Linked DNA regions of Homo sapiens: region 1 is linked to region 2. Evidence: fine-mapped expression QTL. Tissue or cell type: blood mononuclear cells. Region 2 holds a variant in brackets; the other region holds the start of a gene. All regions are shown on one strand. Distances are between the middles of the regions. Region 1 holds the start of RHOU (ras homolog family member U). Region 2 has its middle 30 kb from the start of RHOU.

Evidence for each region. PIP is the estimated chance that this variant, and not a neighbour inherited with it, causes the effect.
Region 1: it holds the start of RHOU, and the variant in region 2 is fine-mapped to the expression of RHOU in blood mononuclear cells (TOPMed, PIP above 0.99). The same link has a PIP of 0.9 or more in whole blood.

What each region holds. Positions count from the first base shown.
Region 1 is chr1:228,725,255-228,740,778 of GRCh38, reverse strand. RHOU (ras homolog family member U) reads right to left here and starts at 5,300. Exons shown (of 3, transcript NM_021205.6): 1 at 4,775-5,300; 2 at 3,048-3,106. The coding sequence starts at 5,036.
Region 2 is chr1:228,758,103-228,773,626 of GRCh38, reverse strand. No RefSeq gene overlaps it. Among named protein-coding and RNA genes, the nearest start is that of RHOU, 30 kb to the right of the region's middle. The variant A/G (reference allele first, on the strand shown) is at 7,902.

The DNA.
Region 1 (15,524 bases), 33 kb after region 2:
ACACTCCAGCTCCACATCCCCAAGTTCTAGCCTATCTGTGCTCACGTTGATTCTCCAGGCATCTGAAGTGGAGGTCAGTGGAGTCACTTAACCCTCAAGGCTCTTATGTCAACTGCCTAGAAGAGGTATGTGTTCCTTCCTCCATAAGGAAACTTGGCAGGTATCACAGCAAGTCCCTTAAAATGTATTTTATCAGATCAGGACTAGGGAGAGTAGAAAAGAACTGCCACTTTGACCAGCTTGGCTAGTAGTCTAAACAAAGACTAATTTATAAATGGGGGATCAGGAAAACAAAAACAGAACAACTGACTTATCTTACCAGCAGCTTATTTTTCATAGTTTTTGAAGATGGTTCTTCTTCAAAAGTTTTGAAGTTGGTTCTAAAAGTCTACAAATTTTTAGATAGTGGTCTTATTCATTATTTAATTGGGTATACTCTTCTAACCAGTACACAAAGGTTAAGAAATACAGTAAATCTCATTGAAAATATTGCTAAGAGGCCAGAAGAATAATTTTCAAATAAACTGAAACTTACAAATGTAGCACCAAAACCTTCGTTTTTCCCTAATTATAAACTTTTTTGTGCAAAAATACTACTAAAGTGATGCTTGTGCTTCCCTGATTTTTAAACAGGAACAATTTAACTCTTCCTTGATGATTCAGTCATTTATGCAAAGTTCTTCTGGTAAAATTCCTATTTGTCTTTCAAAACTCTGCTCAGAGGTTTTCCTGCCAGGCCCAACCAGCCTGCACCTCTAAGCCCGAACCTCTTTTCTTCCCTTTGCTTGCTCCTTCACGAGCTTCCATTTGTCTTCCCTCCACACTGTAAGTCTATTAAGGGGCAGGCCCACAACTTATGTTTATACCCCCACCACCTGGTCCTTCTCTGGTTCATCCATTCTAAAACCACGAGATTAAGCCCTGCTATGTGCCAGGCACTATGCTGGGCACTGGGCATGAAACCCCAGCTCAAGAAGCTGCATCCTGCTTGAAGAGCCAACACTTACGGGGAGCCCAGTGGACAGTGATATTTGAGTGACATCCTGGGGCAGGTAGGTGCACTGAGCTTCTGCTCCAGCCCGTAAGGCTCCCTGCTAACTGTGCCTTTGGACTTCCTGTATTTTCCTGACTTCCATCTTATCCTCAGGGTCTGACTTCAGCAGGTCCGATGGCTATGTTTACTGACATGTTCCTCTGCCTGTGTTTTATTTTTTTTGAGATGGAATCTCTCTCTGTCAACCAGGCTGCAGGGCAGTGACGCGATCTCAGCCCACTGCAACCTCCGCCTCCCAGGTTCAAGCAACTGTCTGCCTCAGGCTCCTGAGTAGCTGCTATTACAGGCGCCCGGCACCACACCCAGCTAATTTTTGTATTTTTAGTAGAGACGGGGTTTCACCATCTTGGCCAGGCTGGTCTTGAACTCCTGACCTCATGATCCACCCGTCTCAGCCTCCCAAAGTGCTGGGATTACAGGCGTGAGCAACCGCGCCTGGCTGGCCATGTTTTAAAACTCAGAAAACCTGACCCCCTGGTAGACAAAGCATCCTCACTTCATACAAGGAAATGAAGCTTGAATTATAAATATCACCATTGCATTCAGAAAGATTCAGTGCTAGAAGTGACTGTATTCTTTGATTTTTCTTTTTTTTTACCCCCAAGAGATGGGATCTTGCTCTGTCGCCCAGGCTGGAGTGCAGTGGCACCATCATAGCTCACTACAGCCTCAAACTCCTGGGTTCAAGCGATCCTCTCACCTCAGCCTCCTGAGTGGCTGGTGGCTGGGACTACAGACAGTGCCACCACACCAGGCTAATTTTTTTATTTTGTAGAGATGATGTCTTGCTATGCTACCCAGGCTGGTCTCAAATTCCTGGCCTCATGCAATCCTCCCACCTCAGCCTCCCAAAGAGCATGAGCCACCACACCCAGCCTGATTTTTGTTTTCTACAGACAATACAATACGGACAGTGCTTGGTTTTTCCAAGCTGAAGTGCTCCCAAGCTATGGCCTGCACCAGCCCGGTGTTCCTTGGAGATCAAGGCTCCACGGTCTTATGTCATCTTCAGGTTTAAAAAATAAGATCTGTCCTTAGCTCTGAATCTGCTGTCCCAGAGTAGGTGAGCAACTTGGAAGCTCTGGCGTAGATGAGGCTCTGGGGGGCAGTGGAAAGCCAGTGCCTTCATAAACACAGATAGTCATGTGATGGCACCTCAGAAAGTGAAGGGGGCACTTTCACCTGCCTACAAAGTACCCCCGGAACTTTGCTGAACTCTAGAACATACTAGAGAGACAAGTTCATTAACTATCACTTTGCCAAAATCAAGTACCCCTGGGTGTTCACAAGGCACAGCCTGACTTCAATGACTCGAGTACCCACCAATGGGGGCTTCTTCTGGGGAACACAAAGAGGGAACCCTACACTCCCTGGCTATTTCCTCCAAGGGCCCAGCCCTCGAGACAAGAACCAGCGTTCACAGTTTGGATAGAATAAGCCCAGTTAGTTCATCCCTCCAGCTTAGGACTGCTCTGACAAATGTATCTGTGCTTCAAGTGATGGGGCTGGTCCTAGCGAGTCAAACCATAGCTCAGGAAGGGAAATATTAACCCTTACTGATGTAAATTCCATCTTTTTCTTGAGCAAATTTCTTCAATATCTGACTCACTGGCCTTTAATAAAACGATTATAAGACATCACTAACTTAGTTTGGGAAATGATGACAAAGCATCACTGAAATTTTTTCATAAAAACCAGGGAGTAAGTAATAGAAACTCCTACAAGAGCTGTTCTTGACACTGCTTCCTCCCTTGCCTGGTTACGCAGAGCTGGGCCAAACCCTGCTTTATTAGTTTGGAGGTATCTTCCTCTGCTTCCTGCCGGCCAATAACCTGGCCCCTGCCCACCCTCAGAGAAGGGCCAACAGCAGGGGTGGGTCCACTTCATGAGGCTTTAGAATGACCCAGTTACTGACTGAGGGAATCAAAGGTTATTTGGAAATCTTTAAAAGGCTGTTTCCTTTCCCAGCACTGAGCTGTAACGTGATACTGACCTGTCCGGCAGTGTCACAGAGTTGGAGTCTCACGGGCCGCCCATCCACAGACACCACCGCTTAAAAACAAAACCAAAATGACAATCAGGAGGTGTCTTTTAACCCCTTTCGGAATACTAATAGTTTTAGCTTTCACTATCATTCTCACTCCAAACCCCTTTGCTCCTATTTTAGGTCCTCTAATGAATTAAAGACTAGCCAAAAACAAGGAGGCCCTGTGGAGGCATTTTTGTATACAAACCCACGGCTGGCAAGTCACTCCATTACCGTGAACCAGGCAGCAAATCCCTGAACGCTTTGATGGTGACCCTAAAAAGGCCTATGCTTTTCTCCCAGTCCTGGAAGATTTATTTTCCTGTCACACTTGTTTCAAAGGACCTAAAAACAACACTGGGGGTAAATGGGAAGCAACCCTGCAGTTTTAAATCAGTGGAAAACCTCACAAATAATTCTGTTTTCCCTTGGGAAAGGTTCCCCAACTTCAGGGTTTATCATACAATTCTAGTGTGTTTTGAGAACATGTGCAAACACAGGCTGCCCGCATTGTCCTGTTTAAGAAATGAGGGCACTCCTTATCTCTATGTCAGGTCAAAAGGAGGATTAAAAAAGAAAAAAGAAAGCCATGGCCCCCTTTCCACTGGGATCCGGGGACTCGGGGAGTGTGGAGAGGCCTGCAGCAGGACATGTTGTGGAGGTTTCTATTTTAATTAAGCAGTCAGTTTTGTCTCTTTCTACACAACTTTCTAATTGTTTCTAAATATTTATACTAGTCAGCTGCAGGGGTGGGGTGGGGGGAGGGGAAGAAACAATACCCTGCGGTGGGAACCCACCAGTACAGCACCCATTTCTCTAAGGTACCTTTGGGATGAAAGGAAGGTCAGAGAAGCAATTTTTTTTTAAAGAAGCAAGACAGTTAAGTGTTTCATACTAGTTTCTGTGAATTTTAACTTTTTCTTAAATTTCAAAAAGACCTGAATAGCAAGATAGAGAATTCCTTTCTCTTTGTATCTACCAAGGGAAATGGCATCGCACCCGGTACATAGGAGCTTTAAGTAGCTTAAAGGGATCCTGAAAAGATACCAACAATCAGAATCCGAGCCCATGTGGGCAGGGAAGGTGGTGGGGCTCAGAAGAAAGAAATGGTGTTTACTCTTCAGGTTTCATCCAAACCTAAGCCTTCACGAGGGCCGCTCGCGCTTTTTCACTAAATCAAGTGTTTTCCCGGCGTCTCCGCGGCTCTTTAAAGCGGAGACGCCCCTTGTGAGCTGAGCCGCCTAAAAGCAAAGGAGCGACGCTCAGGTAAAGGCACCTGCGCGTCACCTTCTGATTGAAACTCTGCAGCGGCGCCAGCGACGTCGCCCTCAGGAAACTTTGCTCTATGCAACAAACTGACCGGGCACCCTGAACTCAACCTGTTTCACTCCTACTTATCTGTTGCTTAAATTGTGAGATTTTTTTTTTTTTTTTTTTTGGCAAGGCTCTGACTGCCGCTCCGCCCTCCTCTCTCCAAGCCCACTCCGCCGTGGTCCTTTCGTGTTAGCTCCGCGCTTGCCCGGTCCCTGAGACTCAGGAAACGTCCTGCACTCCTCATTTGTCCGGCTTCCCAGCTGGAGCCGCGCCCGGGGCCCTGCAGCCCCCTTGGGAACCTCGCGACCCTCGCGCCACCTTCCTTCCCCTGGGTGGACCGCGGCCACGCGCCCCCGGCCCCGGCCCCCCGGCCAGCTCACCGGAGAAGTTGTCGAAGGCAGTAGGGATGTACTCGGTGGGGTAGCCGTTGGTGGTGTAGCTCACCACCAGGCTCGTCTTGCCCACCGCGCCGTCGCCGACCAGCACGCACTTGACGCCGCGCCCCTCGGCACCCCCCGCACGCCCCCGGCCCCCCGGCTCCCCAGGCCCGCGTCCCCCGCGTCCACCGCGCTCCCGACGCGGCGGCACCGGAGGCGCCTCGCAGCGGTCGGGGAACGCGGGGTCCCCCTGCTGCGGGGGCATCGATCCGCGAGCGCGGGCTTGCGGTCGCGGGCTAGCAGGGCCCGGCCCGACCGCCCCTCCGCCCCGGAGGGTTGCGGTAGGGAGGAGCTGTCACCGACAGCTGCGGGCGCGTCCCCGGCCCTGGAGAGTGGCGGTTCCGGGCCGCACGGCCAGTAGACAAAGGCGGCCAGGGAGGGTCGTGGCTCCGCGCTCCGGCGGCGCCAGCCGCTCTGCCCTGCGCTGTTGGAGGACAGCGGTCCGAGCGCCGTGGATCCCAAGCGCTCTGTCTCCGCCCGGCTTCCCGGCGACACGACGCGTGGGGGGCGGGCAGGCGGGCGGGCTGGCGGGGAGGGAAAAGAGGCGGGTCTGGCCGAGCGGCTCGGTCCCCGCGCCAAGACCACAGCGCCCCCCGCCTGCGCGCCGCGCGCCTGCACCCGCGCCCGAGGCGCCGCCGCGACCAGGCGGGGACTGCGAACACTGGCGCGGGAGGACCTGGAACACACGTTCCGGGGGACCCCGCGCACCCGGTCCGGGAAGCGACGCCCGAAGGAGCCGGGCCAGCCTCCGCAGCCTCCTCCCCAGCTCCCAAGAGGGTGACCACCGCGCGACTGGCCCGGGAGGTTCCGCTTTCTGGCGCCCACGCGAGCCAGGAAGCCTGAGCCGCCTCCTATTCACTCCGTGGAGCCCCCGGCTGGCCACGGCTCCACCCAGGGGGAAAAATGAAGTGTCCTGGAGGCCTGTCCTGCGAATGAGATTGAATTAACAGACAGCTTTTTTCCTTAAGTCTAACTGCAGCTGATCGTGTGATTTTTTCTCATTTTGAAGCAAAAGGATGCCAGCTCCATTGTGAATGCTCCTTTGACTTTGTCTTTCGGCATGCCGTGAACCTTTATACATGTATGCTCCAGAAATTTTTTTATACCCCCAATTCCTTCATTTACTTAAAGGTAATTCGGAGACATTAATATGTCTGAAAAAATATTCCGTTTCCCTTTGATTCATTTCTCTCTCTGCCTTCCTTCTACATGTGGTCAACAGTCTATTCAGAAAAAGGACGCCTCTTAGCCAAGTCAGAATACCAAGAGTCCTGGGGGTGTACAGCGTGGTGTGAGAAGGGCCACATATTATTAATACACATTGATACTAGTGGTAGTAAAAATAACAATAACAAATACTGAACTTTCATAATGTGTCAGATACTGTTGTAAGCACTCTTCAAGAACTAATTCTTTTAATCTTAACATTACTTACAGATGAGAACACCTGAGGCACAGAGATATTAAGTAACGTTTTGGGATTCCACAAGCTAGTAAGTGGCAATGCCAGGATCCAAACCCAAATAGTCTAGCCCCAGAGCCTGAGCTTCTAACCAAAATCCTGGAGGCAAAAATAAGTCAGTATGATAAACGTAATCTTGAACGTATGGCCATGGTCAGAATGCAGAGATGGATTTATCAAGAAGTTAGAAGCTTGAATCCAGGACCCCTGACTTGCAAAGGACACTTTCACATTGGAAGACCTAGCAATGTGTACACGTGGTAATATGTTTCTGTAAATTTTGAAAAAAAAAAAAGTATTTTAATCACCACCAGTTATGTTCACTGTCTTTTTAAACTGTAACTTACCCTCATATTGAGTGACTTTGAAGAGGCCATGAAGATTTTGGGGATCAGCCAAAGAAAGTGAAGTTGGGGAGACCCAAACAGGTTGTTTGGGTGTAATGGGATACAGAATCAGGATGAAGGTGAGATAAGGGGGATGTCAAGGATGCAAAATTTATGACAAATTGAGCATTCAGAGGCAATATCAAAAAACAACAAATTTAGAGGGCCCTTACTCTCAGGGTCAGGCAAGTGCCAATGTTAAGTTTTGAGCCTCAGGTACCTGACTTGCCTCTCCCTCGCCCTGGCTGTGATGACAGGATATATTTATGTGGTTTACAGTTCTCCTATGTAGATATGTTGTTGCTAGCCATCCAGGTATAGGAATGGCTACCACTGACATACCTATGACCCTCTGTGAGAGTCACATTGGTGCCCTTAACTGTCTTACTTTCCCCAACACTAGAAGGGTTCCAGTAGCAAGAGTAGCAGAGCTTGAGATGGGCAGAGCTGGAAGCTAGTCTGGCAATTCTTTCCATCATAAAGCACCTAATATCGGCTGGTGCGGTGGCTCACGCCTGTAATCCCAACACTTTGGGGGGCTGAAGCAGTCAGACCGGTTGAGGCCACGAGTTCGAGACCAGCTTGGCCAACATGGCGAAACCCTGTCTCTACCAAAAATAAAAAAATTAGCCAGGTGTGGTGACTCACACCTGTAATCCAAATACTCCAGAGGCTGAGGTAGGAGGATCACTTGAGCCTGGGAAGTCGAGGCTCCAGTGAGCCCTTGATCAACCAATATACTCTAGCCTGGGCGAGAGTGAGACACTGTCTCAAAAAGAAACAAACAGAAGAAAACACAACATTGTTAGAGAAGGTTTGGTTCTCTCTACTAAACCTGATCAAAACAGAAGTTGTCTGCTGTCAGAAATGTACCTGTACTCTAAATGCAGCAGATACACTTACAAATGCATCATACATTTTTGGAGAAAAATCACATGAAATGAATGATCTGAATTCCCATGTTTGTAAGGACATGAGGCTGTAGTAGTACAACAAAAAGCAAGTTCACCTGTGTGTGAAGTAACTTCCTATTGTTCTTATAGAAAATATCTTACAAAACTGAAGAAGTGATCAAAGGGTATGCAACTGAAAAATGAAAATAATGTCATAGAAGTGTGTCAAGCAGTTTATTAAAATGTCATGTCTTATGTATTTTGTTTAAGTTTATGGTGTTTGTTAGCCTTTTAAAATTTGTAACTTATTGTGATGCATTTCTCACTTTAAACATTTGTTTTTGTATCTAATTTTCTATTCTTAATTTTGTATTTTTTTTTCTTAATGAAGTCTCACAAATGTGATAAGCCTCAGGCCCTACAAAACTTGGCTTTGCCCCTCCATCTGGCCAGCTGTCAGTTTTTGTGTCCTGTGCGTCCCCCTCTTGCTTTTCCCCTTCTCATGCTGAATATCATCCCACGCCCACTCATTTGGGCCCGTTTTTCTGGACACAACTTAGTCAGCTCCCTGCATCCTTATCTAAAATGCCGGGAACTAATGTTTGCCCTATTCATGAGACTCTTCTGTAGGCAACATAGGAAATCAGACCCCACGCCAAACAGTTCGGTATTTCATCCAAGTCCAAAAGCAGAGAGATGACAGAATGCCTACCACTTTACCCCTTTACAGAATGCCTTTACTTTACCCCTTTTTACGTTGAACTGTCCCGCACCCACTCATTTGGGTCCATGTTTCTGGGCTCGACTTAATCAGTCCCCTACAGCCTTATCTAAAATGCTTGGAACTAATGCTACAAGAAGCCCTCCAAGGTGTGTGGGTTCAAGTTGTATGATATATTTGTTTGTTTATTTGCTTATTGTCTGTCTCCTCTTACAAGCTCCATGAAATCAGAAACTTAATGTTGCTCATTCCTATATCCCACACTTAGAAGCACGTGGGGCAAGTAGTAGGTGCTTAATAAATACTTAAGCAGTGGTAAATACGTAAGTGAAAGGAAAACATGTTTTGAACTTGACGGTTCTGCAAAAAAGAAAGAAAGAAAAGGAGAAGAATGTAAAACATGGACTCTCAAAACATGGACAGTTGTATTTTTATGCTTTTATAAAATATTTTTAGAATGAATGAAGGAAATTTGACCACTTCTTGCAGCTATTAATAGAAAACCATGTCTTTGCTCAGTTTTAAGACAAAAAATGCATTACACCTCATGTATTCCCATTTGTTTTTCACCAAGACAGTACAACGCCTTCATTGTGCAGTGGGCCTAGAAAATTCTGAAAACTGGGTGCAGAATTTCCGTTCTTAAGATCTTGTCTCTCTGAGGCCCTCCAGCCCAGCTGTGAGCATTCATCCCCCCTACCTACCCCCAACACCTCCTCCAGGACTTCCAGCAACCCACCCCTGGGTCCCCAACAACATGTCAGAGAAGGTGTCTTCTCCTCGAACTACAGGTCTGTAACCCCTTCCTCCTTCTTCCATGAACTTGCTCTTTCTCCGCTTAGGTGTCACCTCCTCCAAGGATGTTTATTTTTCTGCCTAATTTTCTATACTTAATTTTGTGTTCTTTTTCTTAATGAAGTCCTCAAAATGTGATAAGCTTCAGGCCCGACAAAACTTGGCTTTGCTTCTCCATCTGGCCATCTGTTCGTTTTTGTGTTCCATAGCCTCCCTCTCTTGCTTTACCCCTTTTTATGTTGAACTGTCCCACACCCACTCATTTGGGCCCATCTTTCTGGGCTCAACTGAATCAGTCCCCTACAGCCTTATCTAAAATGCTCAGAACTAACGCTTGCCCTATTCATAAGAATCTTCTACAGGCAACGTAGGAAAGCAGACCTCCACACCAAACAAATTGGTGTTTCATCCAAGTCCAGAAATGTTCCCTGACCCCTTATGTGGATATATTTGTGCTTGTCCCTATCACAGCCCTTATCTAGTGAAATCATCTACTGATTATACAACACCTACCCTTGCTCATAATCCCCTAAAAGGGAGGATCCCCAGTTCACAAAACTCTTCCCCTAGCACAGTATTAATACATTTTCTAGGATTTTTTCCATCAAGTTATTTTAACTGTTCCACTAGCAAATAATTAATAGTGAATTTGTAGTTTTTTACTAAAATGGTAAAAAGAAAAAAAGGTCCTAATAGACTTTCCACTGTGTACATGTCACTTTTGTATCTTTTGATATATTTAAGAAATAAATAAATTTTTATCTGCTCAACATATTCCTTGCCAGGTGTCATTGTCATCATCATATTAAATATAAAGCTGTTTTTCCTGCTATTGATAACATTTCACCATTTACTGAGTACCAAATCAGAACAGCACGGTTTTTTTGGATCTTTCATTTTAGCAGGTCATATAACTCTGTGTGTTCATTCACTCTTTAAATGGTAACCCTTTGCCTTGGACACATTAATCTGATTTCTTTCCTTCAGCAGTGCCCTAGTTTTTTCAATACCCTATAAGAGGACATCAGAAGAATATTTCTCTAGAACTGGAGACTCTAAGCTGGGTTGTCTATTGCCAGCATGGCTGTCTGCTCCCAGAATTTCCTTCTTTGTATGGTTCTCGGCTAAAGTTGTCCGGAGACATGATTCTCAGAATTGAGAAGACTGAAGGGAAGTGGAGGAGGGTCATATGGTCAAACATGCCAGTGGATGGACACAGCGGTGCCCAGCACATCCTCACTAGCCTCCTGCTTTGCAGTGATATCATCTCACTGCTGGCTCTGCTGACCCAGAGCAGCCTTCAGCCCTCACCCAGCCCCTGGGCCCCAAAGAGGCTGCAGTCCCTACACCTCATGCCTCAAGCTTCCCTTCCACAGCCTCCAAGGGCCATATCTGCATAACTTACTATTGGCTTTTCTCCAAGTTCCCACCAGTATCCTGCACAAGGGTTTCAGCTGGTCAGGGTTAGGCACTGTTTCCCTCTGAACTTCCCCAGCAATTCCCAAACTTGTGAAAGCTCTCCTTCCTTAACCCTGTACCTTGGAGTGGCTCTGATTTCCTGACTGGGCCCTGACCAATAGTTTCTTGTTTACCACTGGGGATGTCATCCTAGGAAAAAAAAATGACAAGGAAAATGTCTTGCCATGTTTCACTAGAAAAGATGGGGAAATCATATAAATGTCACCAAACCACCAAATGGGCCACCAGTGGCTCCTTTCAGGAATCACAAACATCAGTTAGTGTCATGGTAAGGGCTCAGACCACATGGTTGGTTGGATGTGCTGATACTAGTTTCCCTGCCTCCAGAAGTCCTTTTATCACCTGCCATCACCTTGTAGATAACTAGAATGGATAAATTAAGCTCTTCCATTGGTATCATGAAAGTTTAAGATGTAAAAATCAATCCTTAATTTTGATTGTAAAAATTATTTCTGAAACTGTTTATGTTGTTTTATACTAGTCAGATTAGGCTGTACTATGCTGCAATAATAAGTGAACTCAAAATTTCAATGTCTAGAAACATAGGAGTTAATTTTTTGGTCATGCAAAATTCACAGCAGATTTAGTAGCTCTCCAAGGCAGCTCCCTTTCAAGTGGAGACTCAGGGATGCAGTCTTCTTGCATCTTGTAACTATGCCACCTGTGACACTCATTTCTGTGTGTGCATACCCTGCATTTCTATACATGAACATGTGCATTCCTGTCTGTATATGTACCCGTGCATTTCTATGAGTGAACACATGGATTTCTGTGGGTGAACAAATGCGTATAATGGCAATTTTATAAGAGCTCAAAACTAAAAACCATATAAATGTCTAAAACAGTAAAATGGATGAGTTAATTTGGTAATTCATGATATACTACTATTCAGTCAAGAAAATGAGTGAACATACAGGAATGAATCTCATCAACTAAATGAGAGGTGAAAGAAATCAGACACAAAGGAGTATAAACTATCTTATTTGATTTATATAAAATTTAGAAATGGACAAAACTTGGCCAGGCACGGTGGCTCATGCTTGTAATCCCAGCACTTTGAGAGGCCCAGGCAGGTGGATCATGAGGTCAGGAGTTCGAGCACAGCCTGGCCAATATGGTGAAACTCCGACTCTACTGAAAATATAAAAATTAGCCCAGCGTGGTGGTGCATACCTGTAGCCCCAGCTACTTGGGAGACTAAGGTAGAAGAATCGCTTGAACCCGGGAGGCAGAGTTTGCAGTGAGGCAAGATCGTGCCACTGCACTCCAGCCTGGGCGACAGAGCGAGACTCTGTCTCCAAAAAAAAAAAAAGAAAAGAAAAGAAATTGACAAAACTCATCAGTGCTAGATGTCAGAGTAATTGGGGGCAATTGTTACATTCAGGAAGGAAAGGGGTCATGGGAAACTTCTGATGTTCAGGCAATTTCTTGATCTGAGTGGTGGTTTTATAGGTGTGCACTGTATAGTAATTATTGGCTATATATTTGTTTCATTCACTTTTGTGAATCATGCTATATTTTTAAATTTTAAAGATTAAACAAATTCAAACATATAAATCATATTAAACAGAACTCATGGTTATTTGCATTCCAAAGAACTGTTTGCTTTAGCTTAGCACAGTGCTAATCACATATTGTAAACTTTTTGAATTAAATAACACTCTAATAAAATTTAAATGTGATTTGAGTACCAAAATCCTATTTATACAAAGCTTTTCCAGGAACATGAAGTACTGCACATCATTTACATCTTTAATATTTATTTTTAATGGGGGTATCATCTTCCACCATGGCTATTTATAAGTGTTTTAATATTTTAACTAACTGAACTGGTTCTGCAGAATTATCACAAGAGATAAATGGCAATTTATATGCATCAGTTCTGGAAGAAAAATGAAAGCACCAGGGAGAGCCCTTAGAGGGATGGCAGGTAGATTTGCCTAGAGGAGAAAGGCTAGACTCGCTGCTAACGTGGAAAACAGATGCTGTTCTAGGCAGGCTGAGCTACACTGGTGGCACCTTTCCTGCATTAGTCTTGGTTTATTTTCCTCTGTTAAATCCCCTTCTCTGGGTCTTCTCAGCTGTTGCAACCCTGCCATTCCTCTTTGATGAGAAAGGCCATCTCCATTCCCTGGGACCTGGAGCTGCTATAGCAATCCCAATTGGTCTTCCCAGCTGTCTGACCCTCCCTTTGCACAGAAAAGCCTCCTTCCCAGACCTTCAGAGAAACTGATTCATTTCCAACTTCCCTCCCCAAACACACATCACAGAAACTTTCCCAAACGTTCCCCAGCTGCCCAAATTCTCAGAGATGATAAGAACTCATTAGAAACCCCTCTTAGCTATTGCAAAACTGTGATCTCCCCTAATTTTTCAGTCACCCTGAAGATAAGAACTAGCCATGTAATCATTTCTCAACCACCATAATCACCCTGGCCAGCAGTTCTAGAATCATGAGACTATCCTACTTCCCTCCAGAAACTGCAGCCCTCTCCCTTTTCTAGCTCTTCCAAGCTGAGCACATGAGCACTCCCCCAGTCCTACAATGGGAAGAAGAAAGGTATTTTCACATATTCTAGTAGTTGTCAAAATTCATTGCTGGGTTTGCAATAACAATATAAGACTCAGAATGAATGTATGGACTTCCAAATGCCATATAAATCTGCTTGTCAGTCTGAGAAGAAACGAGCCTGGGCAACATGGTAAAACCTCGTCTCTACAAAAAAATACAAAAATTAGCTGGGCATGGGGTCATGTGCCTGTGGTCCCAGCTACTCAGGAGGCTGAGGTGGGAGGATTACCTTAACCCAGGAGACAGAGAGGTTGCAGTGAGCTGAGATCGTGCCACTGTACTTCAGCCTGGGCAACAGAGTGAAACACTGTCCCAGAAAAAAAGAGAGAGAGAGAGAAGAAATGAGTGTCTACTGCATCAAGAGGACTGTTTTCTCTATCATATGCATCCCAGAAGAATGTATTGAAAGGTAAATACTTATGCTATGATTGAGATCATTAAAGGAATTTGATTTTAGAAGAGCAGAGGTGTAGTCATTAGCTACATTATTTAATGGACCTATCTGACTCATGAACTTAGTGTGAACAATAGTGATCAACACAGACATGCTTAGAGTGTCAAGGAGTTGACAATTCTTGTAAAAAAGAAGATACCTGTAAAATATCTGTAATGCAAGACAGTGTATGGTGAGGGCAAGGGGATGTGCAAAGTGCAACAGAAAGTCAGAAGATGCCTTAGCACAGACTTCTGGATGGGGATGCAATCAACCCTACTCTGACCAGGTGAGAAGACTTTAGCACAATCTTGGGTCCAAAAAGACCCTCCTCCCCCTCATCTTCCAGGTGATCACAAATCTACAACAAATTATAACCACATTGATTATACATGCATTGTCATATTTAGTCCTCACAAAATCTAAACCTGTGCTATTATTTCCCCAATTTTATAGATTAGAAGATGGCAGCTCAGAGAAATTGAGTTTCCTAACAGAATCAGGACTCAATCTCTAGAGCAGAGATTTTTTTTTTTTTTTTTGAGATGGAGTCTCACTGTCTTGGCCAGGCTGGATTGCAGTGGCACGATCTCAGCTCACTGCAACCTCTGGCTCCCAAGTTCAAGCAATTCTCCTGCCTCAGCTTCCTGAGTAGCTGCGATTACAGGCGCGTGCCACCACGCCTGGCTAATTTTTGTATTTTTAGTACGGACGGGGTTTCACCATGTCGATCAGGCTGAGTCTCGAACTCCTGACCTCATGATCCACCTGCCTCGGCCTCCCAAAGTGCTGGGATTATGGGCTTGAGCCACTGCGCCCGGCCTTAGAGCAGAGATTTTTACCATACCCTATAACCTTTCCATCAAACCATTAGACTTACACAAGACAACAGAGCAATGAAGTTGTTTTAAGAAGTTTGTACTGATAGGCTTTAGCAGCATGGTCACTGGACAGAACAACAGTAGCACCCTTGATCACTGATTCAGTCTGAGGTACACAGTACACATGAGTACGTACGGACCGGCAGTGAAAGACAAAGGAAACACTCCAAGGTTTTCCAGTGTATATTAGGAGAGGGGAGAAAAATAACAGTGTGCATAAATAATAAAACATAAGGAGGAAGGAGAAAAAAAGAGAGAAGAAACCCATGATAATTTGGAAGTTTTTAAAAGTTTTTAAAACTCCTCCTATTAGCTATTATTTATATTTATTAAGATAGTAAGAAGATTGTAAAGGTGACCTTAAGTAATTAAGAAGTAGAACATTTATCATACTCCATTGAAAGATCATTTTTATGCATGTGCCTGCTGATTTGAAATCATTTTTTTATCTACTCACTAAAGTAATTCTGTGAAGATTTATTGAGTCCCTTTATTAACTCCAAGACTCGTTAAACAATCAACTACTTTATGTTTAAAATTTGTTTTCTCCAATTCTAAAATTTTATTAATTCAGATGGCTTTGTAATTGGTCAAAATTTGAAAGTCTTAAATTGCATTAAAAATATTTTATAGTTGTGGCTGTCTATAGTCATGGATGGCAGCATCCTTAGGATTTCATTAGGCAAAGACCATGGAAAGGCCTGTCTAGATCTGAAGATGCTGCCATCGTTCTGCCCACGGTGCTCAGCCCCTGGGGAAGTGCTCTGTTCTTTGGCACTCTCACAGCCTTTGGATGGCGTCCCTTGTTGCTGCTCTAATGGGCTCTGTGAGCCACAGAGGCTCAAGGGAGATGCTCAGGGTTGCTCATCACTAGTCCCTTTGAGAGGCTGCAGAAGCTCAGGGCCACAGCCCCCAGGATTGCAGCATCCACACGGCCATCCGTGTTCTGGAACTGAATCCCAGACCTCTGTACCTCTAAAGGACAGCAGGAAATGAGCTTTGGGAACCACTGAGTAAAAAATTCCTCTGGGCTATTCCTTCCTAGGAATATAGAGGAAGCCCAAATGTTCT
Region 2 (15,524 bases):
GGGCTGAAGGGCTCCTCAAGTGCCGCCAAAGTGGGAGCCCAGGCAGAGGAGGCGCCAAGAGCAAGCGAGGGCTGTGAGGACTGCCAGCACACTGTCACCTCTCAATAGGAGACGAATAATACACAAGGCATCCATGGTGGTCGCTGAGTACTTGCTGGTCTCAGACTCCCACATGGAGCCATCGGTGGGGATCCATGTTCCTGTTTAGCTGTTAATTTATGAACCAAGTGTGTTTGGAAGCCCTTTGCACATGAGGGTTTATGAGGACCCTCCCGGGTTTAACTGGCTTTTAAAAACTACAGACCTCTGATCTGGGTTTTCTCCTTACTAATCAGAGTACAGGATTCTGTGTGCCTTTCGCTTCTCCTCTATACTAGACTCAGCATCAAGAGGGCTCTGGCTTTGTCCATCTCCCCTGATTTTACCCACACATTACAATGGGTGAGCCCTGCCAGCAGGCAGTGAGGTGCAGGGGAGGGGAAGGGAGGGCACTGGACCCTCTTTAGAAGACAGGTGGGTCAAAAGCACTTAGTTCTCCAAGACCCACAGCATCTCAGGGGGTGGGGCCCTCACATCCCCCAAGCCTCCTTCACAGGTTGTTGTCAGGAAATTAAACGAGATCATTTATGTAAACATTCTCTCTCTCTAGCTTTCTCACTCTCTTGCTCTCTCTCGCCCTCTCTGTCTTGTGTGTGTGTGTGTGTGTGTGTGTGTGAATTCTCTTTTTATTTGTTTAAATTTTTAATGAAATGCAAACTATTTACAAAAAAAGTATACAACTTGCAATGACCTATTTCAGAGTGAATAAACTCAGTATCAAAAATAGAACATCTTCAGCACCCCCAGATGGCCCTTTCCTGCCCCCACATCACTACCCCCAACTCTAACCGCTATAACCACCCCCATCATTACTCCCAATTATAACCACTATAACCACCCCCCATCACTACCCCCGACTATAACCACTCTGGTCTTCTAATGCCACAGATTGGTTTTGTCTGTTTTTGTTTTGTTTTGTTTAGATAACTATTACATAAATAGAATAATAACATATAATCTTCTGGGCCTGGATTCTTTTGCTCAACTTCATGTTTGTGAGGTACATCCATGTTGTTGTGCATATCTGTCATTATTCTGAATGTTTTAAATACAAAACAATAGATAAAATTGGGCTTTCACTATACAGTTCAAATGCCATTTAGGATAATAATTTCTTCCACTTATCTTAAAAGCTACCAGCAGGAGCAATGAATTGTTTGTGTTTTAAACATATTCATGTAATAGATCTAAAATTCTTTACTTTCTGCAAAAGAAATGGCAAGGGAACCATGATTTGTCTGTATCATCATAGCCTGTCAAGTTCTCCAGGTGCCTAATGGGCTTTGTCTGAATGTCTCTTGCCTGCTTCCCTCCCACAAGTCCTGGGGAGGGCCCCTTTGCTCCAGGCAGTCCCTCCCACAAAGAAGCATCCCTGATTACCCTAAGAACAGACAGGAGAACCATAACAGTATCCAATCTTAGATGCTGTTTTTAATCTATATTTATATAGCTGCGAAAATTAGCAGGGCCATGCCATCCATCTCCAAGGGAAATATAAAGATTAAACCGAATAGGAACAGTGTAACTACCTGCTCACATCAGAGTCTACCATCCAGTATAGTTATGAGGTCACTAAAATTAATGAAACTTTTCTTTAGCTAATGAAATAGCCTGTGGCGAGATCAAATACCAATGAAATTTATTAACTTCTAATCTAGGGAGCGGGAGAGCCAAATCAAATTTTACATGCTAATGTTTTCTGAAACAAAGCAAAATCAAAAGCCTCAGCAAAAAGAAATGAGACATTTGGAAGCTTATCAGTAGGCTGCCAACATTGCCTTTCTCTTTTTTTTTTTTTTTTTTTGAGACGGAGTCTCGTTCTGTTGCCCAGGCTGGAGTGCAGTGGCGCAATCTTGGCTCGCTGCAAGCTCCGCCTCCCGGGTTCACGCCATTCTCTGCCTCAGCCTCCTGAGTAGCTGGGACTACAGGCGCCCGCCACCACGCCCTGCTAATTTTTTGTATTTGTAGTAGAGACGAGGTTTCACTGTGTTAGCCAGGATGGTCTCCATCTCCTGACCTCGTGATCCACCCATCTTGGCCTCCCAAAGTGCTGGGATTACAGGCATGAGCCACCGCGCCCGGCCTGCCTTTCTCTTTACCCTCACATCATGCACTGTGCCTAACTGTTGTACCTTGTCGTGTTCTGTGTTAGGAAAGGAATCCCACGGACACTATAAAAAATTCTGTAAAGGAGTAAAGTGCCTAGGACAGATATAATTATTACCTAGCTGGCAATTCATGAGAATAGCAGACAGGTTTTCAGCAGAGAGAAGGCAGATTGATGGCAGCTTGGATGAGCGCAATTCACAGATGCTGTGTTGGATATCCAGGAGCAGGACGCCGGCAGCCAGCACTTTCCCCAAACATTTGTTACTTCATTACCTAATTTCTACTCACCTTTTATTATATTTGCTCTAGAAGTCAATGCACTCTTGTAGCAATGACTCCAACTCAGTGACTCTTTTGTAAAACAAATTCCAATCAGTGGCAATATTTGAAGAAATGAGAATGTAATGATACTGACTACAGACCTGACACTAGAGAAACACGAGACTCTCTCCCAGGGGCATAGCAACACACACTGGGGCCCGCTGGTCCCACAAACTGGTAATTTAGCCCAGCAGATGCAACAAGGCCACTTGGAAACACCAAACTGCATGATCTTGGCTCCTGGCCCAGCTGCTAATTTGTTGAAGGCAGAAGTGACCCTGCGAGCCATTCAAAGGTGTATGTTACTTTGAGAGGAGAAGTGGAAATATAGACTATAAACTGCTCCAAGAAAAAAAAATCAGATGAGAGAGAAGGAAAACTTCTATGCTGTGACAGTTTATTTGTAAACAAAACATCTAAACATATGACTCTGGGAGCTCCCTTTCTTGTGGATCTCAACCACAGATAGTGTACAAGAGATAAGTATATTTTGGAGTTAAAACTGACAGCTTCCATCTCACACCTTTGGACCTCTTTTTATTATTGTTTTCCATTCCAGAATGTTCATGGTAATTTGAATGAACATGGGTTCTGGCTTTCAGATTTTGATTTCTGATGTCTGCCACCATCCCTCCTGAGCACTGTCACCAGATTCCTCTGTGGAGAACAAGGCAACCTGCACCCTTCCACTGACACAGTGGAATCTCTCCACTCGGAGAAGCGCAAGCTTCTCTGCCAAGCACACAGGACCCTTCGCAACCCAACACCACATCTCCCTCCAGTTTCCTTAGTACACCCTCACATAAACCCTTTAGCCTAGCCAGCCAGGCCCCTTGCTGTGTCCCCTGCAGATCATGCATGGTTCTAGGTCTGTTCCATTCCACCCTCCTCACTAGCCTCAATTCTACTGCGTTCTGATAACCTTTTGTAACGCAGATGTTATTCTCTCTGTCCACGGCGCTCCTGGGGCCAGGCAGGCAGTGTAGAAGCATGATACACAAAAAAGGACTTTGTGTTTTAGGGTGTTCCAGGGATCAGACTGGACCAAGGGAGACAGTCACCCAGGATGAGTAAAGAAAAAAATCGAAATCCTAGCCAACGAGTCACACGAGGGCACAGGAGTCTGAGAAGTGGCACTAAGCTTCAGGTCCAAAGGGTGGAAGAAGGCACAGCCACAAATCCCCTAGACACACGGTGGGACTGCACACTGCCACCGTCTGCCACATGGGTTAGGTGTGGCCACAGGTCAATGAAATTGGAAGTGGTAATCCTGAATAAATATTATTTCTCTTTGCTGTTTTGCTTTGTTTTACAGAATATTGGTGCATACCATTTCACTTGATTTCCTTTCTCCGTCTAACTACAGTTGAAAAATTTATTTAGTATTTGGTCACTCCTGGCCACAAGGTATAGACTTCCTTTATTTTCATAATCTCATGATATTGAGTGACAGTATTTGAGAGGAAGAATCTGGTGTGAGCAAGGAGCTCCGAGTTCTTGGGTTAATTCTGTGAGTGGAAATGGCATGCACCTCTTTTTTGTTTAATTTATATAAACACTTTTCTTAAGAATACTTTGATTTGAAGAAAAGTTGCGAGGATAGCATATGGAGTTTCCACATGCCCCTCCCCCAGTTTCTCCTACTAGTAACACCTTACATTTTCTGGCTACCTTTGTCATAGTTAAGGAACCAACTTTGGTGCATTAACTAAAGTGCACATGTTACTCAGATTTCACTAGGTTTCCCCTAAGGTCCGTTTTCTGTCCGGGGTCCCATCCAGGACATCACATTGCATTTGTTTGTCATCTTTTTTTTTAGCCTCCTCTGGGCTGTGGCAGTTTCTCAGACTTTCCTCATTTTCGATGACTTTGACAGTTTTGAGGAATCCAGGGCAGGTATTTTGTAGAATATACTTCAATTTGCGTTTGTCTGATGTTTTCACCATGATTATCAGACTGAGGGTATGGGGTTGGGGTGGGAAGACCACAGAGGAGAGACGCCCTTCTCATCACATCCCATTAAGATCCTGCTACCAATATGTCTCATCACAGATGCGTGTAGACCTTGGTCACTGGGCCGACGTGGTGTTTGCCTGGCTTCCCCATTGCGAAGGCCCCCCGCTTTATGAGGGGAGTACAGTAGGGCACAGCGCATTCTGAGGGCTGGACAGTTAACCCATGCTGCCTTTGTATCTGTCATCTGGAATCCTTCCACACAGGAGGTGTGTCTCTCGGCGCTTGGGCCTCTCTGGGATGAAAGTTTTAAGTGCACACGAAGGCTTTGCCAAGCTCTCTCTTCCTGATGCCATGATGACTATGAACAGCAGCTCCGTGGCCTGGATCCAGAGGGAGGACAATGACACCGTGATGTATAATGTGAACAAGAAATAAATCTTTACTGTTTGAGCCATTGAGACTTTGGGATATTTTTTATGGCACCATAACTTACCTTCTCCAAGGAAGGGTAAAGCAAGGTTATATTCTCAAGGGCAGTAGTCAGGAGGGTGGGGGCCATGAAAGGGACAGTGTGTCTATTAATGGTTTACGACTAACGCTGGAACACAGCCATACGTGGGAGGTCTGCTCTGATATGACGTGGCCTCCACAGACTGGGGTCCAGATGGCACTAAACCCTCTTCCAGAGTGCAGCTTCTCCTTCCAGATCTCTCCTAATCACTGCAACACACATTAGTTTTATCACACTTCAAATCTAAAATAAAATCATCTCCCCTCAATCATAGCCAGTGCCTCCTCCTGACTTTGTATTTCTGCCCCTGGTGCAGTTATCTTCCCTTTCCTGGCTTAAAATCTTAGTGTGATTGTTGAGCACAGCTTCTGCTGTGGTCAATCATTTCTAGAGATTCCACCCACAATGTGACATTGGCACTCACCTTTTCATTCCCATGCCCCCCTCTCTCGAGCTCAGAGCCTCCTCCCCTTCTGTCTACACCACGGTGACAGATCCTGACTAATCTCCTGCTCTCTCTTCACCCTTCTCTTCTCCTCCAGGTATCTGTTTCTAAACTGAAGACCAGATCAGTTCTTTTTTCTATGTAAACTACCTTCTTGTTCTACCACTGGTCTTCCATAGTCTGGTCCTTCCTCATCTATCTGTCCAGTCTTATTTCCCATGAGTCTTTCACCTCAATTCCACACGTCAGATATCCCTGTTAGATCTGTTTTCCACGTACTTGCGATTCTTTGTAATAGAGTTACTCTTCCTGTTCTGCCTTAACCTCTTGTCTCCTTCTCCAAGTGGCAAGTTCTGGCACCTCTTCAAGATCCGGCTCAAATGTCATCTCCTCTATGAAATCTTTACTGACTTGTCCTATTCCAGGCAAAATTAATCATTCCTTCTTCCTTTTTCAATTTAGAAAAAATCACATTCATTCTTTAATGTTTGACTCAAGAAAGACCTCTTATGTTCCTTCTTTCTGTATTAGTTTGACAGGGCTGCCATAATAAACACCACTGACTTGGTGGCTTAAACAACAAAAATGTATTCCTCACAGTCCTCGAGGCTAGAAGTGTGAGATCAAGGCGTTGGCAGGTTTGGTTTTTTTCTGAGACCTCCCTCCTTGGTTTGCAGATGGTCACCTTCTCCTGTGTCCTTACATGGTCTTCCCTCCATGTGTGTCTGTGTCCTAATCTCCCCTTCTTACCAGTCCTACTAGATCAGGAGCTACCCATATGACCTCATTTTACCTTAATTACCTCTTTAAAAATCCTGTTTCCAAATAGAGTCATACTCTGAGGTACTGGTGGTTAGGACTTCAATGTATGAATTTTGAGGGTGCACAATTCAGCCCAAAACATCTTCCTTCCTTCCTTTTCTCCTTCTCCTCCTTATCCTTCTTCTCTTTCTCCTTCTCTCTCTCTCCCCCTTTTTCTCTTTCTTTTATATAAAAAAGATAAATTGATCCCTGAACTTTCAGCAGGAATAAAGAGCAGTAAAGACTTGGCCCTCGTCCTCAAGCAGTATCTAGTCTCTCACAGGGGACAGACATGGGACCGAATAAGCCCAAGCTCCCTTCAGAAGAAGCCAACAGCCTCTGTGGCACTCTCTCAGGGCCCCATGCCCCAGGTTCCAGTGCAGATCCAAGCATTGTACTAGAGTGCCTCGTCTAGCTTCCTGTCACAGGGAGAAATTGTGAGCTTCTGAGGTCAGGGCCACCTTAGTCATCTCCAAATTTACAGTGCCTTGAAATGTACCTGGTACATAATAAATGATAAACAAATATTGGTTGAATTGAACCCAAATAAATTGATATTATATTTTTACTCCTGAAGGGTTTTTTGCTGATGGATTAACTTTTTCATCAGACTTAAACAAGGGACAAGTTTCTTTGTTAAAGTCAGCAGCTCGAAAGTGATCAGTTAGATGGCATTTTGCAATTCTTTTTCTTTTTTTTAGAAACAGAGTCTCACTCTGTTGCCCAGGCTAGAGTGCATGGCTCACTGCAGCCTTGACCTCCTGGACTCAAGTGATCCTTCTGCCTCAGTCTCCCAAAATAGCTGGGACTACAGGTGTGTGCCACCATGCCCAGATAGTTTTTTTTTTTTTTTAATTTTTTATAGAAACAGGGTCTTGCTATGTTCCCCAGGCTGGACTTGAACTCCTGGGCTCAACTGATCCTCCTGCCTCAGCCTCCCAAAATGCTAAGATTACAGGCATGAACCACCCGTAATTTGCTTTTTAAACTGATAAAAATATAAATTAATATCTTTGAAAAGGCAATGTTTCTACAATTTTTTTGGGAAAATGACTTCTGAGTTTCCTTCTATTTAGGAATCTCTCAGGTCTTTCCCACTGCAATAAGTTGTGTATATAAAAATTATAACTGCAATAACAAATTAATATTAGTTGCATTTTGATGTGAACCAAAAATAAAAATAAGCCTCATACTATGTGAAGGTGATAAGCAAGGAGAATCTTACAAAGACTTGAAAATATTTTGAGAAAATAAAAACTGCAAAATTAGAAGCATTCAACTTAATTATTACATAAAGTTTAAACAACTAATGAGTAGTGTTAATGGTCCGTTCTAGTTTAAGGTTACTGGTGACAGTATTTGTAACTGGCTGTTGGGTCACGTGAATGATCTACCATAATTGGCAGACAGAAAGTCCCACTTTCCTTTTACTTTGGAGACTAATGGTAATTTTCCCCCAGCCTCATCTCTATCTCCTGTCTTGGAGTGAGGTTCTGTAGAAGGTCTGCGTGTGACCGCTTGTGGCTGTCGGTGCCTTGCTGTAGCCTTCGAGGTGGAACCCAAGCTGGGCGCTGCAGGAGAGGAAACAAGGCCTCACTGAGGGGCAGAAACCAGGAAGCTGGGCCAGCCACGCCCTGAAGACTCTGCTCCTCTCTGTAG[A/G]AGTAGAGACCAGGTGTGACTTCCCATGGGGTGGGGGTGGTGAGAGTTGAGACAAACTGTCCCTGAAAGTGAAGAGGCCCCAGGCGGAGCACCTTGCACTCTGGAAGAGTGACACAGGACCCACTGGAACTAAAACTGTAATGTGATGAGATGTTGTCAAAGCAAAGTAACAACAACAATAAAAATACTAGTAGGCACTTACATAGCACTATGAGCCGGTGTTCTGGCAGATTTACTTATATATTAATACATTATGAACTATGTTTTTGTTTAATAGGACACACTTATCAGTTGCAAAAGACTACTAATGCCTACATTTTTCTGGCAAGATGTCATTTTCCATTAAGGCTCTATAAGGCTGGGTGTAGTGGCTCACATCTGTAATCCCAGCACTTTGGGAGGCTAAGGCAGGAAGATCATGAGCTCAGGAGTTAGAGACCAGCCTAGGCAACACAGCAGGATACTGTCTCTACAAAAAAATCAAAAAATTAGCAGGTCATGGTGGCTCCTGTAGTGGCAGCTACTCTGGAGACTGAGGTGGGAGGATCACTTGAGCCCGAGAAGTCAAGGCTGCACTGAACTATGATGGTGCCACTGCACTCCAGCCTGGTTGACTAAGCAAGATAGTGTTTCAAAAAAAAAAAAAAGAGAGAGAGAGAGATAGAAAGAAAAGGCTCCTTTAAATCCAGCCTTCAGCAGATGAGGGGGCTAAAACGGGCATGCCTTATATTAAGAGGGCTATTAGGGATTGCCCAGAAAATCTTTTTTTTTAAGCTGTTTTTGCCACATAATTAAGCTCATAAAATTTTCTTTAAAGAACCAAATAGGTTATATAACCAAAAGCCAAAGTCAAGTGATTCTTATGAGCAAACAACATATAGTTAATCCACAAAATTATTTTGGGACCTCACACTGTTATAAAGTTTTTCCTTACACAGAAACAAAAGCTTCTTCCCATAACATCCTTCTTTATTCTTTATATCTCTTTCGACAGCTCGAAGTGTGTTTGGTCCTCTGAGAAATCTCTGACCAAATGCAGCAGTCATTTGCCCTGGGTGGTGCCTTTCCTCTTTACTAAACCTAATCAATTCTTCTAACTCTTAATTATGTGAAATGTATATAGAGTATATGTTTATATAAAATATATGTATAGAAATGTGTACTGTGTAGTTTAGCAGTGGATGCTGTTTGCATGGTTACACAAGTACATGATGCATTGATAATTCATACACAAGAAGTTCTTTTGGGATGGACTCTGGTAGGCGGAATGGGAATACGCTATACAGCTGATCTTTGAACAACAGGGGTTTGAACTGCATAGGTCCACTTACACACAGATTTTTTTCTATACGAATTACACAGACTGCACTGGCCTCTCCTGCCTCCCCTTCCACCTCCATCACCTCTTCTGCTTCTGCCACCCCTGAGACATCAAGACCAATCCCTCTTCTTCCTCCTCCTCCTCAGCCTACTCAACATCAAGGCGAAGAAAAGGAAGACCTTTATGATGATCCACTTCCACTTAATAAATAATAAATATATTTTCTCTTCCTTTTGATTTTCTTAATAATATTTTCTTTTCTCTGGCTTACTTTATTGTAAGAATACCATATATAATACATATAACATACAAAATATATGTTAATTGGTAAGGCTTCTGGTCAACAGTAGGCTATTAGTAGTTAAGTTTTGGGGCAGTCATACATGGATTTTCCACTGCGTGGGGGTGTTGGTCTCCAAACCCCACATTGTTTAGGGGTCAACTGTACTGGCAGTGCTGGCCTGTTTTCTCCTTGGGGTACAGTCAGCATGCATGTCATTATAGTTTTACTTTCTCCCAAGTGTATTTCATTGCTTCAGTTTTTTGTCTTTGGTTTGAATTTCTTTTTTCATCAGAATTTATAGACCATCTGCAAAGCAGTAACTTTGGAGGGATTACAATGCTTCTATCAGTCAGCATCCCAGCTGGAAAGAGATGACGCACTCAAAGGGGTCACTGAACGGACTTAAATTGACAGACTATCTAGAGAAACCAGCACAGGATTGAGGAGACTGACAAGCTATGGTAAAGCCCCAGGAATCAGCAACAAGGGAGGCCTTTATCACCCGTCAGCCTGTTGGGAAGTGGCAGGCAGGGGACAAATATGAGAACTCAGAGATCTGGCTGTGAAGAGGGGCTGCTTGCAGGATCTGAGACTCTAGAAGAGAAACAGATTTCTCTTAGGGAAGGAGCAGGCAAGAAACCCCCAACCTCTCTCCACCTTTTCCATCTCCCCAGTTCCTGCTGCAGACCAAACCTTGTGAAAAGCAGAAATCTAAAAGATGAAGGGGGAAGAAGTTAGTCTTCCAGGCCACACAGCAGGGTCAGTAGGGGTCTGGAGGGGCAAAGAGAAAATCCAGGTCTGCACAAAATGCAACGAGAGAAGCATAGTTTCTCAGAGAGCGGGCACTGTGCACTCTGCATCTTTTCATGACCGTATCTAGTGTCTAGTGCAGGGCTTGACACCCATGACATTCTCAACAAGGGTCTTACTGAATCCGCGAACAGATCAGAAGTCAGTTGTTCCTGAAATAGAAGGCATTGTAACTGACAACAGAATACAAATGAACTGTGGCTTTTTAAAACAACCACATATTACTATTATCTAAAACTTACTCTTCTAAACAATGTCTTTATTAATCAGCTAATATTAAAGGAGAATCTGATAACTCTGATTTTTCTTTCCATCAACCTGTCCTTAAGCTGCACACAGAAAACTGTCTTCAGAAGGGAGTTTCTGATGTTGTTAAGCACCTAAAATTTGTGTAAGCAAATAAAAGAGCAAAGCCCTCCTAAATAGAGTATCAAGTTTGCAAGACTTGGCCACGGGAGGCCAATTCCAGTTCTAGTTCTGATTCTACTGCTTGTGCTCCCTGGAGTAGGTTACCTATACTCTGCATGCCTCCATTTCTTCAGCAAAAATAGGAGTAATAGCAGTACCTGTCTCTTAGACACTCATTTCTATTAACTGTCCTGCCTTCACCAAACGCTATTATATAGCACACTGCATGTTTCAGTCAGTCAATAACTTCTATTGCTTCCAACAACTCAAAATATCTTGTTTTAATCTGTCATTGTTGGTTCTCTCTAATTGATCCCCTTGCCTGGTTACTAGAATCTACCTTTCTGTCTAGCTTACATGAACTGACACTTTGGCTCTGTTCTTTAGTTTTGGAGATTGTGATTAAAATAGGGATGCCAGATAGAAAACAGAATTTTAAAATATAAATAAAGACAGGTAATACAAAGATAAAATACAAAGTAAAAAAACTTTGAATTTCAGAGAGACAACTGATAATTTTTTTAGTATACCTATATCCCAAATATTGCATGGCAACCCTAGATTGGAGGGCACCTCTGGAATCACCCTTAAGTTCAGGATTCAGCACCTCTCAGCTCATCCCATGCCACGTTCTCACCCTTTCCTAGAGCAGCCCTGGGTCTTGAGTACAAATTCAACAACTTAGCTCTTCTTGGAGGGATGTTTAAGTAAATACTGCCCCTGGGAAGTAAGTGATCATTTCCCCTTACTTGAGCCTTGGCATAGATCTACAACACTAGGATACCTATGCCAAGGCTCAAGTGAGGGGAAATGATCACAATACCATAGATATCCTGGTTCTCAATATTGGATGTGTAGTAATAGCAGGATATACTGTATGAAAACCAGTGGCGTGATTCAGATTTAATGGTCACCTTTTGCTCTCTGAGGATCTATCAGAATTCCATCTTCGATGTCCTGAGAGAGAAGCTTCCTCTCCCATCTCTTTTCAAAAAAATGGGCTCTGTTTGCTTTGTAAATGTATGAAAAAAGGGCCAGTCTTCCAGTTTCGGGTCCGATAAGGACTGTTGAAATCTGAAAGGCCTTGGCCAGGTTAATGACATGGAATTCTGAAGACACTACCTAGAATCTTATCAAATTCAAAGCTAACTATAAATTGTTATTGCTTTCTAAAATCCAAGTATAAGCCTAAGTGCCTTTGAGGGAGAATGGGTCTGTCCACCTGGAGGAGAATGGAGGTAGATGCTGCCGTGCGCCCCACAAATCCAGTGGGACAGTTCCTGGCTGACATACGGGAACTCACTGTTTTCATCTTCATTAGCCATAGAAATCTGCCCTAACTGACTGCATAAAGGCGATTGAGCTGGTTAGCAAATTCAAATTCAATAAGGCATCTGGGGAAGATACTTTCTGCCACTCAAAGCTGTTTTTGAAGTTGTGGGCTCTAATTCTTATCACTGTTAACTCTGCAGGAATAATTTTACCAATCTTATTGCAAAATGTAGCCCATCCTTTTTTTTTTAAGGGTAATCCCTTACTCCCTCCTCCCCGACCCTCTCAGTTCAGACTCTTCCTCTGTGTTTACTTTCTGAATGTTAATAGGAGTTGGATTGTTGAGGCCAATATTCTGACTGCAGTGGCCATGAAGATAACTGGTCCTTCTACAACCAGACATTGTTATGACCTCTGTCACATAATAATGTGATTAGTCCAAAAGTCCGTCTCCCCTCCCTCCCCCTGCCCTACCCACAAACACTGTGACCAGAGCGAAAATCCCTACGTTCTTTGGATAAGCTGAATGCACACCCTCTATGCCTTTTTTTTTTTTTTTTTAAACGGAGTTTCGCTCTTGTTTCCCAGGCTAGAGTGCAATGGCGCGATCTCGGCTCACTGCAACCTCTACCTCCCAGGTTCAAGTGATTCTCCTGCCTCAGCCTCCCGAGTAGCTGGGATTACAGGCATGCACCACCATGCCTGGTGAATTTTGTATTTTTAGTAGAGACGGGGTGTCTCCATGTTAGTCAGGCTGATCTCGAACTCCTGACCTCAGGTGATCCACCCGCCTCAGCCTCCCAAAGTGCTGGGATTACAGCAGTGAGCCACCGTGCCAGGCCCATGCCCTCTATTTTTTAAAGAATATAAGACAAGTTTCTAATCTCCATTGACAATCATTTCATTTCATCCATTTCATCCATTCAAATCCCCTGGCTCTGCCATTTTTCTAGCCATTAGTTGAACTTGGACAAGTAACTTAACCTCTTGAGTTTTCTCGATTTTCAAATGTAGAAAAAAAAATTAACTTAGAGTAGCCTTAAGGCTTAAATAAAATTATTTTAAACACTGTCAAGCACATACTGGAGGCTAATACCCAATCATGGTTGTCACCGCTGAGCTGTGAACTCACTCAGTTGGGATGGCAGCCCCATCTCCCTCTAGGGAAGAGCTTGCAGCCCAGGTGGGAGGAGAAGATGGCTGCCAGGCAGCCATGTGAGCTGAGGCCATGCTCTTCCCAGCCAGGTAGCCCCCAGCCAGTCACCTAGCAGTGCAAAGTACTAGGGCTTGGTTACCCCTGCCCAATGTGGGACTTCTCTGAAAGGCAGCCTGGCTCTGGACTTCTCCTTGGATTGATAAGAGACTCCCACATGCGTTACCACCAGAGGTTGCCCTGTCCAGCCTACTTCCTTCCCTTTATCTTCCCCAGACATCACACCCCTCTATAAACCTTTTACACCCCTAACTCCATCTCTTTGCCCACTCCCTAGAGAACTCCACAGTGAGGAAGTTTCCCCAATGTATATCACTCTCAAATACAGGTTCACTTGGTGATGGTGCCCAGCACTTCTGGGAAGGAAATAAAGACAATTGGATTGGATTACAGTTGGCCTTGGAACAACACAGTTTTCAATTTCGAGGATTCACTTATACTTGAATCTTCCTTCACCTTTGCCATCCCTGAGACAGCAAGAACAATCCCTTCTCTTCTTCCTCCCTTCATCCTACTCATTATGAAGACAATGAGGATGAAGACCTTTATGGTGATCCACTTCCATTTAATGAATAGTAAATATATTTTCTCTTCCTTATGATTTTCTCAATGACATTTTCTTTTCTCTAGCTTATTTTATTATAAGAATATAATATCTGATATATACAGCATACCAAATATATGTTAATCAACTGTTTATGTTATCAGCAAGGCTTCTGGTCAACTGTAGGCTATTAGTAGCTTTTTTGAGGGGTCAGTAGTTATACGTGACTATTGCGGGGGAAGCAGTGCCTCTAATCCCAGCATGGTTCAAGGGTCAACTGTACTGTTAACAAAGGAAAGACCTACCTACCTATCCGAGAGAGAGAAAAAAAGAAAAGACATTTTAGAAGACAACAACATGGGAGAAAGGCGGTGCCCTGCTCCAGGGTCTGCCCCTGGAGGTCTTCTGGCTATGGAAGACCTGAGAGAGTCTCTGCTGAAGCAATATTGCTTCATCTGTGGATTGCACCCCATGCCTAGCTAGAATTCTAAACTGATTTGAACTAAGCCCATGACTCCACACCCTAGACAGCTTTAAGCCTCTGAATTTCCAGTATCTGGCAAGTTTTCAGAAACCTGGTAATCATGTCAACTATTCACAAACATGAGAGTTTTTTAGGAAGGATTTTTTTTCCATTGAGGAAGCAAAGGCATAGAGAGGTTGAGTATCCTGTCCAAGTCCTATAGCAATTAAGTGGTAGAGCCATGGGTTTGAAATTTGTGTCTGAGCTCTAACCACTCGTACATCATCTCCCTATACAGGCATTTAGACCCTATCTAAATCTCTGATGCGCAAAACAGTAGGAAGAAACCAAAACCAATGTGGAAGTGAGCAACTGCAATGCAAAACTACTGCATCTTACTGATCTTGATGTTGATAAAGTCACAAACTGTAGCCTATCATTCTGGGACTGCACTTTCCCCTCACTTCAGCAGCTCTGCCCATCATCAGCTACATCCAGCATGCTCTGTACAGGCATCATACAGGCACAGGGCCTTTTGATCTTGTGAACTTGTGGAGTCACAGGTATCCTGACTCTCATATCCATCTTGAAACTGTCTGCAGAGACAAGTTCGGCCAGAATCACCTCACGATTTGACAGGCCAGCAGAGATGCTCTTTGCCACTGCTCAGCAGATCAAGCTGAAGGGTCAGGACCCATCTCCTGCTAGCTGCCCACTCTGCTGCCAACCACCACACTGTCACAGAATGTTCTGCTTCTGACAGTCCATTTCTCCACAATGACCGAGAGCTGGAACTTCTGCTCCCATCTGGGCAGCAGAGCTACGTGGCTCTTGCATAATTAGTTCAGCTCTTGGAAAACTGTTTACTGAATATTTTGCCAGCTCTACATGGAATTGAAGCTGTGCTTTATTCTCAGCCTAACCACAGCTTAACAGGTCACAAACCTTAAGGGTGTGCAAATCTGTGCTCCCTTCACTCTGGTGAGTGCTTTCTCCCCTGCTCAGGGCTTCTGAGAAGCCGTGCCCAGGAAAAGCTTAGCCTCATGAAACAGAGTCTCACAAAATTCACCTGCCCAAAGGTCACCATGTCTATGCAGAAGCCAGCCTCGACTTGAATTTCTTATAATATTGGAAATAAGGAAATGGGGTCTGATAAAATGTCCGATGTTTGTGAATTGTTTGTACAATATAATTGACACCTACTATGGATGGACAGGGCAGTGGGGACCTCAGTTGTGTGGGGGAGCCACTTCCTTCAGGCCCTGGGAGCACTGGAGATGGGAAGGAGGGTCAGCAGGAGCTGTTTGTG